2 separate regions of the Homo sapiens genome follow, and region 2 is linked to region 1. Evidence: fine-mapped expression QTL. A gene starts in region 1. The other region holds a variant in brackets. All regions are shown on one strand. Distances are between the middles of the regions. Region 1 holds the start of AP1B1 (adaptor related protein complex 1 subunit beta 1). Region 2 overlaps AP1B1 (adaptor related protein complex 1 subunit beta 1).

The links. PIP is the estimated chance that this variant, and not a neighbour inherited with it, causes the effect.
Region 2: its variant is the best candidate, but not a certain one, in a credible set for the expression of AP1B1 in whole blood (INTERVAL, PIP 0.73).

The regions. Positions count from the first base shown.
Region 1 is chr22:29,384,752-29,396,543 of GRCh38, forward strand. It overlaps AP1B1 (adaptor related protein complex 1 subunit beta 1), which reads right to left and starts at 3,819. Exons shown (of 23, transcript NM_001127.4): 1 at 3,673-3,819. It also overlaps a transcript of RFPL1 not described here.
Region 2 is chr22:29,362,518-29,370,517 of GRCh38, forward strand. AP1B1 (adaptor related protein complex 1 subunit beta 1) reads right to left here. Exons shown (of 23, transcript NM_001127.4): 2 at 4,690-4,753; 3 at 484-589. The coding sequence starts at 4,726. Among named protein-coding and RNA genes, the nearest start is that of AP1B1, 22 kb to the right of the region's middle. The variant A/G (reference allele first, on the strand shown) is at 4,208.

The DNA of each region.
Region 1 (11,792 bases):
CAGCTACTCTGGAGGCTAAGGCATGAGAATTGCTTGAACCCGGGAGGCGGAGGTTGCAGTGAGCCAAGATCGCGCCACTGCACTCCAGCATGGGCGAAAAAGCGAGACTCTGTCTGGAAAAAAAAAAAGAGCTATTTACTTAGAAGAGAGCCAAATAAACAATCACAACCCACTGTGACCCTTGCCAGAGGGCATCAAGGAGGGGCATCTAGCTCAGACCTAGGGGTGATGATCAGATGGGAAGAACCAAGTAGCACTCCAGCTAGGCAGGTAAGGTTGGGAGAGCAGGAAATGGTGTTCAGGCAGAGGGAAGAGTGCAAAGCAAAGACAGAGAGGTATAAAGAGTTGGGAGGCCAGGTGTGGTGGCTCACGCCTGTAATCCCAGCACTTTGGGAGGCCCAGACAGAAGGACTGCTTGAGGCCAGGGGTTTGAGACCAGCCTGAGCAATATAGCAAGACTCCATCTCTACAAAAAATAAAAACAATTTGCCAGGCACAGTGGCACCCATCTGTAGTACTAGCTACTTGGGAGGCTGAGGCAGGAGGATCGTTCAAGCCCAGGAGTTGGAGCCTGCAGTGAGCTATGACAGCTCCACTGTACTACAGTCTGGGTAACAAGCCAAGATCCTGTCTCGAAAAAAGAAAAAGAGTTGGTGCTTGCAGAAGTAGCAAGTAGCTGAGGTTGACTGGAGCTTGGGAAAAGGTGAGTGTGGAGCAGGAGAGATGACAAAAGAGAGCTAGGCAGGGGTCAGAGTCCAAAGGGCCTTGAATGCCATGCTAAGGAATGTGAGTTTTAGCCCGAGGGCAACTAGGAGCCACTGATGAATTTTCAAGCAGAATTTTCTTTAAGGATTCCCCAACTGCTCTGTTGACATTTTTTCTCAGGAGTATTTGTTCCTCTCCATGTGAAGACATAAAGAACAGAAAAATCACTTCTGGGCTGTGATAATATCAACGATGTCTCTTAGGCAAAAAGACCTGCTGAGAAAAAGAAATGTCTGCAAGGCACAGATGTCACCTCAACCTTCAGAAACACAGCGAAGTGCAAAACCCAAGCCATGTTTGCTTACTGTCAGCATGTCAGGCTTTGGTGCCAGACACGGGAAGTTCCTGGGAAGTAGTTAAGACATGCAAGAGTTTCAGAGGATGACTAGAAAAAGATGCAAGCCCAAGCTCAAAGCCAGAAGGACCAACAAATTGAACTTGTTCTGAACTACTTTTAGGAAGTGAAACAAGAAGGGTGGAAAAAGTCCTGCGTACATTAAGGTCTCTGTTTGCAGAAGGAAGTAACGCTCCAGAAGCCAAGGTTGGCAGCCTTCCTCAGACACAGGCCCCCAGCAGGCATCAGTCTGCCTAGAGTCAAAGCACCCAAAAATCACAGGCCCTGCACAAATTTTCCCATCTAACCCTCACACAAACCAGGGGTAGAGGAGTCAGAAAGGGTGGCCAGTATTATTTTAGAACTGAGGTAAAGGAGGGCCAGCCTATGTCAACGGTCCAGGTCAGGTCACACTGCCAGGAAGCTGCTGAGCTGGGGTTGAACCCAGGGCTGACTGACTGGGAGTCTGGTGATCTTTCCATCATACCTCTGGGCTCTTGAAGCAGCTCAGGGTGAAGCCTCCACTGACCTACACTCAACAGATGATCTTCACACAATCTCTGAGGGATCTGACTCTTTGAGACCTACTGAAGATGCTCCTCATGACAGTTTCTAAGAGGTCAGAGGAGACTGGTGGGCTCAACTCAGGACAGAAAACCAGAAGCTCTGAGCTCTGCTCATGTTCCTACCCTCTGTGACAAGTTGCTTCATCTCAAATCCTCCCTTGGAAGGATGGGAATATAAGGTGACAATATTAAGTTTCTGTGAATTCAATGGAACTAGGAGAATAGATCACACAGCTTAAAAAAAAAAGGTATTACAGTAATATTTATATACAGCTTTCTTCAGAAGCCATGTGGAAGCCCTCACGGGTTCATTCACAGGTTCATACCCCTAGGAGCAGACAGGAAGGCGGCAGGTCTTTCTCATGTTGATGTCAGGGAAACTGAGGCAGAATTGAAGCAAGTGAATATCCGCAATGGAATGAGGCTTAGATTCATACAGCCTAGTCCTCCAGCCACCAAACCGTCTCACCACCTCCCAAGTAAGACGTGCTCTGCTCTGGCAAGAAGCCATGGGGCCTGCATATTTCTCAGAAAGGCAAAGATTCTTCCTCTGGGTACCTTCTTCCAGAACCTAGGACCAAAAGATCCCCTAGAGGTCATGTGGTTCCTCTCTTTTTAGACCAAAACGAATGCAGCTCAACCACTCTGAAGAGAAGTTCTCGACAATCTTCAAATAGTTTTCACGGATAGCCTGTTTTGTGTCTCACTGTTCCCTAAAGTCAGGAAAATCTTAGACTCTTGCCCTGAAAGGTATCACTAATAGCAACAGCCTGTAGGATTGTTTTATCCTAAAGAAAGTAAGTCGAATGCCCCTTATGAAGATCAGACAAAAAGCAATAAGGCTACATCGTGACATAAATCCAAATAAATACAACGGCAGCTAAAAATCTTTTTTTTTTTTTTTTTTTTGAGACGGAGTCTCACTCCGTGGCCCAGGCTGGAGTGCAGTCGCACGATCTCGGCTCACTGCAACCTCCACCTCCTGGGTTCAAGCGATTCTCCTGCCTCAGCCTCCCAAGTAGCTGGGATTACAGGCGTACGCCACCATGTCTGGCTAATTTTTGTATTTTTATTGGAGACAGGGTTTCACCATGTTGGTCAGGCTGGTCTTGAACTCCTGACCTCACGATCCACCCGCCTCAGCTTCCCAAAGTGCTGGGATTACAGGCGTGAGCCACCATGTCTGGCTAAAAGTCTTAAATATCCCCTACACCCCAACCTTAACTCCAGTCTTTCCTTTGTCTCTGTACTTTGCAGGTCTCTGACAGCCTGGCAGAAAACCTGGCCTTGCCTCTACTACCCGAATGACCTTACATGTGGGATTTAACCTCTCTGTGCCTCAGGGTCCTCATCGATAAAATAGGGATATTTAATCCCCACAAAGGTTGCTGTGAAGTTTAAATGTGTCATTGTAAGGAAAGTGCTTAGCACAGTGCCCGGTACACAGAAGGGACTCGATAGCCACTAGCAAGCATCTCCCTCGTTATTTTGCAGCATTATCACCGGTGTCTCCATTCAGTTAACTTGTCTTAGAGGCTCCAACAAACAAGACCAAGCCAGTGCCTAGCCGGAGGCGGGCGGCACGGGACCGTTTTCTAGTTTTTTTTTCTTTCTTCTTTTTCAACCTTGGCAAAGAGATAACGCCCTGAACAACGAGGAGGCCTCAGGATGGCCATGGAGGTGAGTCCGAAAGAGGAAATCAGAGCCCGAAGAGTTTTCCCTCAGGCCAGTGGGGAATTCCTCGGGGCCTAAGTCCTGTCTCTCCGGGCGGAAGCCCCAGGAGGTGCTGCGGGTATGGGGCGGCCGAGGAACAGGCCGGCGGCCAAGTGGGCGCGAATGAATGAACGAACCCTCAGCCCTTCCTCCTCCTCTGGCTGGGGACGTCGCTCGCGCCCCTGCAGCGCCGCGTCCTCTTCATGACCTCTGACCCCGCAAACCCCTCACCTAGGACCCCTGACCCCTCGCCCCACTTCTTCTCCTGGCTCGCCCGGGTCCCCGCTTCCTCACCCGCAGGTCCCAATAGCTCCCGGCGCCCCGGCTCGGTTCGGCTTGGCACCAAAATGTCCGCGGCCTCCACCTCTCGCTCTCCCGGTGCGTCCGGGCTGCCGGCGGCTCGGAGCCCCGCGGCTGTCACCTGCCGGGCGGAAGTGAGCTGCCCGCGCGCGGGTACTTCCGGTGGACGCAAGGCCTGAAGGCGGGGTCAAGGGTACAACCCTGGCGGGGGTGGTGCCCGTGGGGCGGGGCAAGAAAAGGGGAAGAGCCCAACGGTATTAACCCCTCGGCAGCCGCGGCGCTGCTATGCTGCAGTCTCCCGCAGAGCCCTTGGGAAACCATCCCGCTAGCCAATTCAGCGTGAGGGGGCCGGGCAAGGTCGTAGGGAGTTTGAAGTCCATCTTCTGTGTAAAGACGGCAAATCTGAGGTTCTAAGAGGGGCAGGGTTTTGCTCAAGGTCACTCATTTTTTGTTTGTTTGTTTGAAATAGGGTCTTGCTCTGTTGCTCAAGCTAGAGTGCAGTGGCTCGAAGATCTGGGCTCACTGCACCCTCCGCCTCCCAGGCTCAGGTGATCCTCTCACCTCAGCCTCCCAAGCAGCTGGGACCACAGGTGCGCAGCACTACGCCCGGCTAATTACTTATTATTTACTTATTTATTTTTTGTAGAGAGAGTCTCACTTTATTGCTCAGGCTGGTCTCGAAATCATGGACCCGAGAGATCCTCCCGCCTCGGCTTCCCAAAGTGCTGGGATTACAGAGGGGTCTCTCTCTGTCCAAACTAGGTTTACAGCTCTAGTTTGGACCCCTCCATTCTTAAGATGAGTGACCTTGAGCCAGACACAGTGGCTCATACCTGTAGTCCCAGCTACTCGGGAGCCTGAGGCAGGAGAATAGCTTGAGCCCAGGAGGTTGAGGTTACAGTGAGCTATAATTGCAGCACTGCACTCCAGCCTGGGCGACAGATCCAGACCCTGTCTCAAAAAAAGAAAAAAAATGGCCGGGCATGGTGGCTCACACCTGTAATCCCAGCACTTTGGGAGGCCGAGGCGGGCGGATCACAAGGCCAGGAGATCGAGACCATCCTGGTTAACATGGTGAAACCCCGTCTCTACTAAAAACACAAAATATTAGCCGGGTGTGGTGGCAGGCGCCTGTAGTCCCAGCTACTCAGGAGGCTGAGGCAGGAGAATGGCGTGAACCCGGGAGGCAGAGCTTGCAGTGAGCCGACATCACACCACTGCACTCCAGCCTGGGCGACAGAGCAAGACTCCGTCTCAAAAAAAAAAAAAAAGAAAAAAGAAAAAAACCATCTGCAATCCCACTGACCTAAGACAATCACTTTTAATATTTTGGTGAATATTCTTCCAAACTTGATAGATCATTTGTTTTTTTTTGTTTGTTTGTTTTGAGACAGGGTCTCGCTCTGTTGCCCGGACTGGAGTGCAGTGTCGTGATTTTGGCTCACTGCAACCTCTGCCTCCCAGGTTCAAGCGATTCTCCTGCCTGGGCCTCCCAAGTAATTGGGATTACAAGCATGCACCACCGTGCCCAGCTAATTTTTGTATTTTTAGTAGAGGCGGGGGTTTCACCATGTTGACCAGGCTGGTCTTGAACTCCTGACCTCAAGTGATCTGCCCACCTCAGCTTCCCAAAGTGATGGGATTATAGGCGTGAGCCACTGTTGGTATTTTTTAACTCACCAAAATATTGGTAAAAGTTTCCCAAAATAGTAAATACATTTCTACTTGGCACTTTCCAGTATCTGCATAGTATTCCATTACGTGGATGGTACTGCTAATCTCAAAAACAATCCCCTGAGGTTGTTATCCATCTTTTTTAATATTATCAAAAAGTTGTTAATAAATAAGCTTGCACTTACTGCTAAGTGCACTTATTGCTAAGTCTCTACGTCCTATCTAATATAGATATTACTGGTTTTTATATTTAATATAATTTTAGATGTTTAAGCAGCCTCAAAGCCTTTAAAAGTTATTTTTAAATAATTATAGACTTACAGGAAATTGCAAAATTAGTACCAAAATTGAGTCCCATATACCCTTCACCCAGCTTCCCACAATGGTGACATTTTATATATCTGCAGTATAATAGCAAAAGCAGGAAATTGGTGGTGTTGGTAAAATACCGTTATCTAAATTACAAACCTTATTCCATTTTTATTTATTTATTTATTTATTTATTTATTTTAGACGGAGCCTCGCTCCATCACCCAGGCTGGAGTTCAGTGGCTCGATCTCGGCTCACTGCAAGCTCCGCCTCCCGGGTTCACGTCATTCTCCTGCCTCAGCTTCCCGAGTAGCTGGGACTACAGGCGCCCGCCACCACGCCCGGCTAATTTTTTTTGTATTTTTAGTAGAGACGGGGTTTCACCGTTGTTAGCCAGGATGGTCTGGCTCTCCTGACCTTGTGATCCGCCCGCCTCAGCCTCCCAAAGTGCTGGGATTACAGGTGTGAGCCACCGTGCCCGGCCACCTTATTCCATTTTTAAATCCTTTTTAAAAGTAGTCAGGGAGGCCATCCTGGCTAACACAGTGAAACCCCGTCTCTACTAAAAAATACAAAAAATTAGCCGGACATGGTGGTGGGTGCCTGTAGTCCCAGCTACTCAGGAGGCTGAGGCAGGAGAATGGCGTGAACCCGGGAGGTGGAGCTTGCAGTGAGCCAAGATTGCACCACTGCACTCCAGCCTGGGCGACGGAGTGAGACTCTGTCTCAAAAAAAATAAAAATAAAAAAGTAGTCAGGGAACAAATGGAATTTTTTTTTCTTTTGGCTTCAACAATGGAATTTATTTTCTCACAGTGCTGGGGACTGGAAGTCTAAGATCAAGGTGTTGGCATGGCTGCTTTCCTCTGAGGCCTCTCTCCTTGGCTTGTAGATGGCCGCCCTCTTGCTATGTCCTCACACGATCTTTCCTCTGTGTGCCTGGAATAATTTTATGTGTATGTATGTGCCATGCAGCATGTGTGATATGCAACTTTCTGGAGGAACTGCCCTTCTCTGATGATAGATGTTGGTAAATGCCACCCGCCTCAGTGGAAAACAAAATTTCATTGGGAATGTAACATCAGAAGAGAAAAATTATCCTACAAAACAAACCAACAAACCTAAAGGTATCAAGCTGGAGAGCTTATGTGCAAGTGGCAAGTCAGTGGTTGAAGGAGTCAGAGCTTTAAGATTTCCAAGGAGGGAGAGGTCACAGCACCGGGCGGCTCAGGAAGGACTTCCTGGGGAAGATGGCATTTGCGCTGTCTTGCCGAATGAGAACAGAGTTGCGTAGGCTGAGAGAGAAGGAAAGGGTAATCCAGAGAAAAGAACTGTGCCGAGGCAGGAAAACCTCACGGGCCCACCCCCACGCCCAGTGCAAGGGAGCCAGGTGTCTGAGTCCTGCAGAAAGCATTTTCCAAGCCTCTGGTTTCAGCCAGGCCCTGGGCTGGGTGCTGGATAGTCAGATGGGTGAGGCTAAGGCCCTGCCCTTGCTCAGCCTACAGTTTGCAGGGAGAGGGGGTGACAGAGGAGCAAGTCACAAGTGTGACTGATGCTGTGAGAGGGGACATACTGGGAGGCTATGGGAGTCCAGAGCTAAAACTGAAGTTCCTTTGGGTTGGAGGGACCAGGGATGCCTGGACAAGTAGAAGGTTTTTGTTGTTGTTGTTGTTTTGTTTTTGGTGAGCCGGGGTCTTGCTCTGTCCCCCAGGCTGGAGTGGAGTGGCAGCAATCTCGGCTCACTACAACCTCTGCCTCCCGGGCTCAAGCAATTCTCCTGCCTCAGCCTCTCGAGTCGCTGGGATTACAGGCGCCCACCACCAAACCCAGCTAATTTTTGTATTTGTAGTGGAGATGGGGTTCCAACCTGTTGACCAGGCTAGTCTTGAACTCCTGACTTCAGGTGATCCGCCCGCCTTGGCCTCCCACAGTGCTGGGATTATAGGCATGAGCTACCACACCTGGCTTTTTTTTTTTTTTTTTTTTTTTTTTTTTTTTTAAGACAGAGTCTCCGTCACTCAGGCTGGAGTGCAGCTGTGCAAATTTGGTTCACTGCAACTTCTGCCTCCCAGGGTCAAGCAATCCTCCTGCCTCAGCCTCCCAAGTAGCTGGGACTGCATTTGCACACCACCATGCCTGGTTAATTTTTGTATTTGTAGTAGAGATGGGGTTTTGCCATGTTGGCCAGGCTGGTCTCAAACTCCTGACCTCAAGGGATCCACCTCCAAAGTGCTGGGATTACAGGCATGAGCCAACACACACGGCCAAGTAGAGTGTATTTAATCAGGAACTGCAGAACAACAGTGAATGTTTATGGAACATGTAGCGTGGCAGGTAGTGTGCAGAAAATCTCATTTGCTCCTGACATCGGCCCCATGAGGAAGGGGTTGTTTTAGCTCCATTTCATCTTGGGGGGAACTTCAACCCTGAGAACTTAAATAGCATGTGAGTGACAAGGCTGAGGGCCTGGTCCCAGAGCCCCAGCTGTCATGAGTTTCATTCATTCTCCTAAAATATAATCATCACTGCCATCTGAGCCAGGAACACTGGGGATGCAACAGTGAACAGGGTATGGCACAATCCCCCCTTGGGGGCTCACTGTTGAGTATGGGAGAAAGATAAACAAAGGGACAATTATAACTCAGAGTGGTAGGAAGTACCAGGGAGGCACAGGGGATGCAGGCACCAAATTCAGCCTGGGAAAGTCAGGGAAGTCTTCCTGGAGGAAGTGACACCCAACCTGAACTGTGAAGGGTGAGACTACTACTAATAGTTAACCATTAACCAGGCACTGTGTGAAGCGCCTCTGCATATTAACTCATTAAACTTTCCCAATAATTCCATGACAGTTCCATGACTGTCCCCAAGTAGAGATAAGGAAAAGACCAGTGGGTAGAACTGATTTCTTCCCTACTTCCATGAGGGCCTGGACCTGCTCTCCCACAGCATGATCTGGCAGGAGAGCTAAAAATATACTAGTAAGAGGAAGTACAGTTCAAAGTAAAAGGCTGGATAATTACAGCTTGCAGAGGTGGGTGACAGAAGTGGGGAAGGGAGCATCTAAGGGAACTTCCCTCTCTGCCCCCACCACTAAACCCACCTAGCTACACTGCCTGAGTCATCCACACCATCAAATGCTGACAGCTACAACTGGAACTGCCACACCTGGGGCACATGTGGGTGCCCCGGCCCTCTGAGACCCCAGGCCCAGGAGAAACTCCTTGCCCTAGGATGTGGGGAGCAGAGCCAATGGTAGCCAAGCCCACCTGGATAGAGAGAGAGAGAGAGAGAGGGCGCTGGCTTCCTCCCAAGAAATACATACTTCCTGACAATAATACTACCTCCTGGCTAGTTTTTATTTTTATTTATTTATTTATTTTGAGACAGAGTCTCACTCTTTTTGCCCAATCTGCCTACCACACCCAACTAATTTTTGTATTTTTAGTAGAGATGGGGTTTCACCATGTTGGCCAGGCTAGTCTCGGAACTCCTGACCTTAAATGATCTGCCCGCCTTGGCCTCCCAAAGTGCTGGGATTACAGGCATGAGCCACCACGCCCGGCCTATTTTTATTTGTTTTAGAGATGAGGTCTCACTATGTTGCCCAGGCTGGTCTCAAACTCCTGGCCTCAAGTGATCCTCCTGCTTTGGCCTCCAAAGTTCTGGGATTACAGGTATGTGCCCCTGTGCCCAGCCAGGACATTTTAAAACTTTTCTCCAAGCCCCAGTGTTTTTATACCCTGCCCGATTTGAGCTGGCTGGTGGAGACAGGGCTGTCCAGTTCTTTGTTTTTGAGACAGAGTTTCGCTTTTGTTGCTGCAAGCTCCGCCTCCTGGGTTCAAGTGATTCTCTTGCCTCAGCCTCCCGAGTAGCTGGGATTACAGGCCTGTGCCACCACTCCTGGCTAATTTTGTTTGTTGTTGTTTTTGTTTTGTTTTGTTTTGTTTTGAGACGGAGTCTCGCTGTGTCGTCCAGGCTGGAGTGCGGTGGTGCGGTCTTGGCTCACTGCAACCTCCACCTCCTGGGGTCAAGCCATTCTCCTGCCTCAGCCTCCCGAGTAGCTGGGATTACAGGCACCCACCACCATGCCTGGCTAATTTTTGTATTTTAGTAGAGAAAGGGTTTCACCATGTTGGCTAGGCTGGTCTCGAACCCCTGACCTCAGGTGATCTGCCCGCCTTGGCCTCCCAAAGTGCTGGGATTACAGGCGTGAGCCACTGCACCGGGCCTGGCCAGTTCTTTGGGCCTCAGTTTCTCTTCTCTGCGAACTGTGCACCCACCATGGGCCAAGCATCGTTGTATGCCCTTGACATCCATCAATTCATTTAACTCTCACCGTTCTCAATAGGTAGATGCTAAGATAACCCCATTTTACAGATGAGGCCACTGAAGTCCTGAAATGTTGAGGGACTTTCCCAGCTTCCCAAAGCAGCAATGGGCCTAGCGGAGAGTCAAGGCCAGGGCTGATGACGGCAGGCCTCATGCTTTCTTCTCCACTCACCCTTACCTGCTTCATGAGGTTTCATCCAATGCCAGGAAGGTTGAGAGTTCGTGCGGTCTCGTGAAATGACCCACTGTGACCCCTGCCACTGGCATTCTGTGACCCTCAGCAAGTCCCTTCCCCTTTCTGATACTCAGAATCTCAGAGCAAAGTCCTTCCCATCCTCCCTCCACAATGAATGGGTGCATAAGTACATGAACAAATTAAGTATTCTTCCCCTCTGCGCCCACTAGAGTGCGCACAGGTGCCACTAACCGCCACCGTTCCCTTCAATTGCCATCCTTTCACAGGGGCCGCTGTGCCTTTCTATATACATTCCCAGCCTTTCCGCACTCTTGTTCCTCTGTGATTACTATTCCTCTACTCCAGTCTCTGTTTGCTTGCTGGTTTTTGTTGTTTTCATCCTGCAAATCTCTAAAAGTTGCCACAGAGCCTTTCTAAAAGGAGGCAGGAGGTGGCTTTGTCCATAGCCTCAGGAACACCAGCCTCCACCTGCTTGCTGAGGGCAGGCAGCTTCCCATCCCTCCCGCCCAGCCCAGGCCTGGCACAACCCCCAGGGCAGAGAGGCCTAGAGCTTGCCAGGGATCCCAGCCTTTGCCTCCAGCTCTCCTTGCTGCAGATGTCCTCAGTGCACCATTTCTAGTCTTCCCAGTAGCAAATTCCTGCTCAGCCCCTCCTAGCTGTACACCACAGGCTCCCTCTTGAAGAGCTCTGCTCTCTCAGGTACCCCTGTGCTGAACTACCCTCCGCCGATGCATCGAAAAAGCCCAGGCTCTCAGATGGGCACAGTGGCTCACACCTGTAATCCCAGCACTTTGGGAGGCTTAGGCAGGTGGATCACCTGAGGTCAGGAGTTCCAGACCAGCCTGGCCAATATGGTGAAACCCTGTCTCTACTAAAAACACAAAAATTAGCTGGGGATGGTGGTGAGTGCCTGTAATCCCAACTACTAGGGGGGCTGAGGCAGGAGGATTACTTGAACCTGGGTGGCAGAGGTTGCAGTGAGCTGAGATCATGCCCGTCCACTCCAGCCTGGGCAACAGAGCGAGACTCTGTCGAAAAGAGAAGAGAAGAGAAATAAGAGAAAAGAGAAGAGAAGAGAAAGAAAAGAGAAGAGAAGAGAAGAGAAAGAAGAGAAGAGAAGGAAGAGAAGAGAAGATAAGAGAAAAGAGAAGAGAAGAGGCCCAGGCTCTCAACCCCACCTGGGCTCAGATCTTCAGCTATGGGACTTCAGTTTCCAGTCTGAAAAATGGGACTTGCTATGGTTTGAATGCATCCCCCAGGAAGCACATGTTGGCAGTCCCCACTGCAACAGTGTTAGGAGGTGGGGCCTAATGGGAGGTGTTTGGGTCATGAAGTCTGTACTCTCATGAGTGGATTAATGCCAATCACAGAAGGGCTTGAGGCTGTGTGTTAGATCTCTTGCACTCTCTCTCACTCTCTCTCTTTCTGCCATGGGAATATGCAAGGAGGCCCCCACCAGATGCCGAGCAGATATTGGCACCATGCCCTTGGACTCTGGACTTCAAGAACCATGAGCCAAATACATTTCTGTTTATTATAAATTACCGAGGTATTCTGTTAAAGCAGCACAAGACAGACTAACATAGGTTGGTTGTGCCTTCTTGCA
Region 2 (8,000 bases), 24 kb before region 1:
TGTATTTTTAGTAGAGACAGGATATCACCATATTGGCCAGGCTGGTGTCGAACTCCTGACCTCGAGATCCGCCCGCCTGGGCCTCCCCAAGTGCTAGGATTACAGGCGTGAGCCACCGCGCCTGGCCCAGATTTCCCATTCTTTTAAAAACCAGAAGACCTGGCCACACTGGGTCCTCTTCCCCAGCCAGTACTGATCCTCTGGAGTTTCTGAGAGGGTTCATGCCACACCCACTCCATTGCCTGCTGCCTTTCCCACCTACTCCAGTTAACTCACTCCATAACCACCTGACCTGTCAGTGTCTGGGCTCATGATTCCTGTGTAAACAAAACCTTCTATTGGGAAGAAAGTTTTATGAAGGGAGCTGTATGAGGGGAGACATGGGTCCCTAGACACCCTAAAGGAGAGACTGAAGTGGACCCAAGCTATAAACCCTCCCCTGTCAGCCAGCTTCTAGCTGCCACCAGGCCTACTCCTGCACACCTGACATCTTTGCCCACGGTCATCGATGCAATCACTTTCTTCACTGCCTCCTTCTTCTTCTCCTTCTTGTCACTGTTGAGCTCTGCCTTCAGCTCGAAGATCTCCCCTAAGGAAAGGAGGCAAGCATGAGTGATCCCTCCCTACCCTGGCAGGGGACAATTCCCAGTATCTAACTTCCAAAAGAACCGGAGGGAGGCACGTAAGACATCCTATGCTGTTGGCTGAGGGAAGCTTCAGGCGCCTGGCCTCAGGTGGGCCAGGCAACAGTGAGGGATGACTGTTAGGACAGGAATTAACAAGATGGAAACTTGTAGGCCGGGTGCAGTCGCTCATACCTGTAATCCCAGCACTTTAAAATGCTGAGGATTGGCCAGCACAGTGGCTCATGCCTGTAATCCCAGCACTTTGGGAGTCCGAGGCAGGCGGATCACGAGGTCAGAAGATCAAGACCATCCTGGCCAACATAGTGAAACCTTGTCTCTATTAAAATACAAAAAATTAGCCGGGCATAGTGGCGCGTGCCTGTAATCCCAGCTACTCGGGAGGCTGAGGCAGGGGAATTGCTTGAATCCGGGAGGTGGAGGTTGCAGTGAGGCAAGATGGCGCCACTGCACTCCAGCCTGGCGACAGGGCCAAGACTCCATCTCAAAAAAAAAAAAAGAGGCTGAGGATTACTTGAGCTCAGGAGTTTGAGATCAGCCTGGGTAACATAGTGAGACCTCGTTTCTACAAAATAATTTTTTTTAATTAGCCGGGTGTGGTGGCATGTGCCTGCCGTGCCAGCTACTCTGGAGGCTGAGGCTGAAGAATCGTTTGAGCCCAGAGATCGAGGTTGCCGTGAGCCATGACACCACTACACTCCAGCCTGGGGGACACAAAGTGAGATCCTGTCTCCAAAAAAAAAAAGTTTAGAGGCCACTCTGGATTGAAGCAACAGGAACCATGGAAGCTACAAAGGTTCTGAGGAAGACAAAAGCATCAAAAACATGATGGCAGGCTCTGCTCAGCCAGGGAGCTAAAACCCCAGTGGAAGGCAAAGCTGTCCTCAGCTACCCTCACTCAACAAAAGACCCTTAAAAGGCTCAGTGCAATAGAACCTGAGTACTTAAGGCTTGCGGGGTGAGAGCAGGATTTGTGGATTCCCACATGAAGGCCTTTCCTGTTTTCCTCAAACCTCTAATTAAAACAGCTTGTTCAGGGTTTCACTTCCTGAGACACAAGTGGTTGGTTGCTCAGCTCTGAAAACAGGAATTCAGCTGCTCCATGAGAGCTCAAGCATGAAATCAATTGTTCTGAAGAACTTCATGACATGAAAAAAACAAATGAGGAAGCAGGGTTGTCTGGCCCTGCCATGGACAGATAGTCAGGACCCTGATAACAGGTTAGGAGGGCAGATGTCATTTCCTGACCCCTTCTCTTTTATTTTTTATTTTTTTGAGACAGAGTCTTGCTCTGTCACCCATGCTGGAGTGCAGTGGCCCCATCTCAGCTCACTGCAACTTCTGCCTCCTGGGTTCCAGCAATTCTCCTGCCTCAGCATACCGGGTAGCTGGGACTACAGGCGTGCGCCATCACACCCAGCTAATTTTTGTATTTTTAGTACAGACGGGGTTTCACCATGTTGGTCAGGCTGGTCTTGAACTGATCTCGTGATCCGCCCGCCTTGGTCTCCCAAAGCACTGGGATTACAGGCATGAGCCACCACGCCCGGCCATTTTTTTTTTTTGAGACATAGTCTCACTCTGTCACCCAGGCTGGAGTGCAGCGGTGCGATCTCGGCTCACCGCAACTTCCGCCTCCCGGGTTCAAGCAATTCTGCTGCCTCAGCCTCCCAAATAGCTGGAACTATAGGCGGACACCATCAAACCCTCCTAATTTTTGTATTTTTAGTAGAGACGGGGTTTCACCATGTTGGCCCGGCTGGTCTCAAACTCCTGACCTCAGGTGATCCACCCGCCTCAGCCTCCCAAAGTGTTGAGACTACAGGCCTGAGCCACCATGCCCGGCCCCTCTAAGCCCTTCTCTAAGCCTAGTCCCATACTAACTTGTTCCCACACATTTTCTTATTTCATCCTCACAACTCTGCATTTCCCTCCGTTTTGCAAATGGAGGCTGTGAGAGGCTCAGTAACGTATAGCCAATGCTGGTAGGGGGCAGGGCTGAAACTGAAAACCAGGTCTGCTAGCTCCAAAGCCCATGCTCTCAATCCCTATGCTTGGGCCTACCCAAGATACCCACTTTGCTTTCCTAAACCTGTTTCCTTGTCTCTTTGGCTGGAGCATTGAACCCAGGCATGTCTGTCCACACATCTCTCTTCCCAAAAGAAATCCACTAAAAAACCCCAACCCCAAAATAAAAAAAATAGCTGGGCATGGTGGCACGTGCCTGTAGTCCCAGCTACTTGGGAGAATTGCTTGAACCCAGGAGGCTGCAGTGAGCAGAGATCTTCCCATTGCACTCCAGCCTGGGTGACAGAGACTCTGTCTCAAAAAAAAACAAACAAACAACAAAACCCACCCCTGGGACTCCAATACACTCAGCACTACGTTCACCCTGTGGCTCACCAGGCTCCACAAGACTGATCCCTGCGTACCTCTCCAATTGCTTTCTCTCTTTTTTCAATTAGTTGCCCAGGCTAGACTCGAACTCCTGGGCTCAAGCAAGTAATCCTCCCACCCAAGCCACCACCTGGGGCGCCACTGTGCCTGGCTCTAACCTCTTCTTGTATCACCCTCCTCGGTAGCTCATGCCCACTACCTTCCTTTCCCCAAATGTGTCACAGGCACAGCACTCACTCCTTCCCCTTCCTATCCCCCATCGATCTGGCCAGCTCCACCCAGAGCTCTCCCACAGTCCCCCCTGGACCCAGTACACTTCAGTGTGGTTACTACTCTACAGACTGTCTTCCCTGCTCAACCTTGAGCAACACCAGGTCAGAGGCTCTGTTTCTTTTCCACTGCACATGGTAGGTTCTCAGTAAAAACCAGCTAGACCAATACATGAAATGCCTGATGAGGGGCAGACTTCGGGTCCTGGATCAGCTGATCCAGCAACAGACTCTTTTCATCTGGTCGGCAGGCATGTGTCAGTATCACTTGGAAGGAAGGAGGGAGGAATAAAGGGCTGGCCAGAAAGATGCTTACAGGGTTAAAGCACATTTGTCAGCCACGACGACATCCTCCATTTCCTTAAAAGCAGAAACAACCAAAATACCCAATGATATAAGCCTAGCTTAGCAAATTTCAGTGTAGCTACTCAATAGACTTAATAGTGAGTCATTAGAATTGTTGGGAAATGTTTATGATATCAAAACATCAAATGAAAAACAGGATTAAAACGATGAAAATACATGCCTGACCGGCCGCGGTGGCTCACGCCTGTAATCCCAGCACTTTGGGAGGCTGAGGGGGCGGATCACCTGAGGTCAGGAGTTTCAGACCAGCCTGACCAACATGGAGAAACCCCGTCTCTACCAAAAATACAAAATTAGCCGGGCATGGTGGTGTAATCCCAGCTACTTGGGAGGCTGAGGCAGGAGTATCACTTAAACCTGGAAAGCGGAGGTTGTGGTGAGCTGAGATCAGCGCCATTGCACTCCAGCCTGGGCAACAAGAGCGAAACTCCGTCTCAAAAAAACAAGAAAGAAAAATTAGCTGGGCATAGCGGCGGGCGCATGTAATCCCAGCAATTCCGGAGGCTGAGGCAGGAGAATAACTTCAACTCG[A/G]GAGGCGGAGGTTGCAATGAGCCAAGATCGCACCACTGCACTCCAGCCTGGGTGACATGAGTGAAACTCCGTCTCAAAAAAAAAGAAAAACACGTGCCCTTGGATAAGGACACACACACACACACACACACACACACACACACACACACACACACACAACTGCTGTGGGGGTGTTGATAGGATTCTGTGTTTTCTTTCCCCTGGAAAAAAACATAATTATTTTAAGCCATGGGAAATAAAAGGGCACTTTTTTTCCCCACACTTGGAGCTAATGTTCTTCCCTTTCTGAGCTCTAAAAGGAGTGGTCAATTTCTTATATCATCAACAGTTCAATTTTCTAGATCTACCACAAGCTCTAGGCCATTCCTGCCACATGTTTCCAGGCCTTCATTCCCACCCCTACTCCCTACCGCCATAGGAGGAAAACAGAAGGGACAGGAAGAGAAAGCATAGGACAAGGCCCATTATTAAACAAGTAATACCTTTCTTGGTCGTGGTGAAATATTTTGAGTCAGTCATTTTGGTCCCTTATCTGTAGCCAGGCTTCTGCAAGAGAGAGAAGAGAGGGGTGACTTTCAGTTATGCTCCATCCCATCTTCAGTTATGGTGCAGAGGGAGGAGAAGGATCCAGAACACATGTGGTACAGGAAAACAGCTGCTTATCTATTTCCTGGAGAAACAAACTTTAGATCATGGCAGATTAGATTTTGAAAAGTAATTCTGAGGAATCTATCAACCTTTTTTTTTTTTTTTTCTTCAGAGATGGGATCTCACCATGTTGCCCAGGCTGGTCTCAAACTCCTGGGCTCAGCCAATCCTCCTGCCTCGGCCTCCCAAAGTGCTGGGATTACAGGTGTGAGCCACCACACCTGATCCCATCAAATTTTTGAATGTGCCTCTTCTAGAAATCTTTCCCACAAAAATATCTGCACAAGGATGGATGGGCTTACAGCAGCCCCTTTGTGGGACCCACTTTGCTCAGCACTGTCCTAAATGCTTGGCACACATTAACTCATTAGGAGCCTCATCACAGCATCATCAAGGCACGATATTACCCTATACAGTCAAATAAGATTAGAAAATACCAAGCTTAAAAGGCTAGGGAGACTTCTTCTCCCCACAACTTTTCTAAGCTGCTAAAATAGTAACATGCCTGATTCATCTCTGGAAAGGGCTAGAATCTGTACTCTACAGCAGTTCCCAAATCTACCTGGCCAGTTTTCTTAAAGGCTCTCTCAGGACATCTCCTAGCGCAAAGCTCACAGCGTGAAGTACTATTGTAGACAATAGGGGCTGGGCACCACAGCTCATGCCTGTAATCCCAGCACTTTGGGAGGCTGAGGCGGGTGGATCACCTGAGGTCAGGAGTTTGAAACCAGCCTGGCCAACATGGTAAAAACCATCTCTACTAAAAATACAAAAAATTAGCCAGGCGTGGTAGTGTGTGCCTGTAATCTCAGTTACTTGGGAGGGTGAGGCAGGAGAATCACTGGAACCCAAGAGACTGAGGCTGCAGTAAGCTGAGACCACACCACTGCACTCCAGCCTGGGAGACAGAGCAAGACTCTGTCTCAGAAAAAAAAAAGACAATAGGACAAAGAAAGTACTGAAGCTCTGCCATTCATTTAACAAAAATCATTTAACAAAAATTTACTGAGCATCTCCTATGTACCTCAGTAGTTCTTCTGGGCAACAGATGAAAGAAAAGAAGTTACACAGGAACCAAGATACCCTAGATACATTTATTAAGAATCTATCATTTACTGAGCCCCTATTAAAGGCAGGGGCTTCGCCCACATTATCTCACTTAATCTTGTCAATAATGTAACTGCTTTGAATCCCATTTTACAAATGATGAAACGGACTCAGCGATGTTACATGACGTGCCCAAGGTCAAATGGCTTGTAAGTGGCTGGGCTGGGAGACCATCTCAGGCCTACCTGAGCTTAGTTCCTATGCTCTATTGAAGGAATTCTGTTTCCCCCTTCTGACGAGGAGGACAGTTCCCTGATAGTGGCTAAAGGATTCAGTCAAAAAAAAAAAAAAAAATTGAGGCCGGACGCAGTGGTGCACACCTGTAGTCCCATCTACTTGGGAGGCTGAGTGGCACAAGAAGCACTTGAACCCAGGAGGCAGAAGTTGCAGTGAGCTGAGACTGTGCCACAGCACTCCAGTGTGGTGACAGAGCAAGACTCTGTCTCCCCGCCCCACCCCCGCAAAAAAAAAACACATTGAGACTTTCAAGTACAGCCTTCCAATCCTACCTGTAGTTTTATGTGGTATAGAAAACCACACAACTCCAAAAAACAGACATTTGAATGGAGAAAACCCACTTCACTTTATCTCTTTTGTTGCGTCTATGGAAGGGACTCAAACAAATAACCCACCAATATCTCCTTTCAAGTCATTACTATACGGGGGCAAGATGAAAGTTACTAGTGCAACGGATGTGAGGGATCAGGAGTCATTTCACAGCCTCTGGAAACCAAGCCAACACAGCACCTCCTCTCCAGCCCAATTGGATTTTTCCAAATTAAGCTTGTATTTATGGCAGGATGGCACTGAGCAAGCCTCCCAACCGAGAGACACCCATAGATTTTGTTTCAGTAATCACTGGGAAACAAATACGTACTGTCTTGGGGTCACCTTAAATCCTTTGTGGATCCTGAAGGAATAAAGGAATAAAGGCTTCACTGACAAAACAGTACAAAAAAAGGCACAATTCTACTTCCCTTTTGCTTTGCAAAGTTGAAAAGGAAGGATGGCACTTTTCTATGGGAGCTGCAGGAAAGAGCAGAAGAGCCCACTGCGTCTGATGTTGCAAGTCCCACAGTGGGGACTCTAAACTTGCTGGTCCTCCCAGCATGAGTCATGGCTGTAGACAGATCCACAAAGGAAGGCCCCGCATGCGCCAGGCTCACAGCTCCCGTTCGCCCTCCTCTTTCATGCCTGGCCCAGGCCCGGCACATAGCAAGTATTCAATTGATAGTTGTTGAAAGAAATGAAAAGGGGCCACTGAAAATCCCAGGGAGCCTCAGCCTGCTCTCTGGCAGCCCTGTTACGTAACTAGTTAGCATTTGTTTCCAACAGGAATTTACCGACATTAAAAACGATTTTTTTTTTTTTTTTTTTTTGCACACACATAAAGCCATTTTCTCAAAGAAACCTCACCAACCTAGGGGTTCTTTGGGGACCTCTGAAAATGGGCAGGTAAATCAGATAATGGGATTTCTGTCTTACAATAAAGATCTGCATGGTTCCAGAAGTCACAGACTTGAGAGTGTAACTGCCAAAAGTATCCAAAATAATAGGATAATATCATTTCTCAAGGTTGAGTGTAAGAGGGATAACTGAAGACAAAAGGGGCTAAAACTCACAGGCCACAAAGAAACACAGAAAGTAACACAGAAACCACTCCAACATTAAATCTAAAAAGAAACAAAAGTGGCCGGGCGTGGTGGCTCATGCCTGTAATCCTAGCACTTTGGGAGGCTGAGGTGGGCAGATTGCCTGAGCTCAGGAGTTTGAGACCAGCCTGGGCAACATAGTGAAACCCCGTCGCTACTAAAATACAAAAAATTAGCTGGGCGTGGTGGCATGTGCCTGTAGTCCCAGCTACTCGGGAGGCTGAGGCAAGAGAATTGCTTGAACTCAGGAGGTGGAGACTGCAGTGAGCTGAGATCGTGCCACTGCACTCCAGCCCGAGCGACAGAGTGAGACTCAGTCTCAAAAAAAAAAAAAAAAAGAAAGAAAGAAAGAAAGAAAAGTGAATAAAACAAACAAAATACCTTAG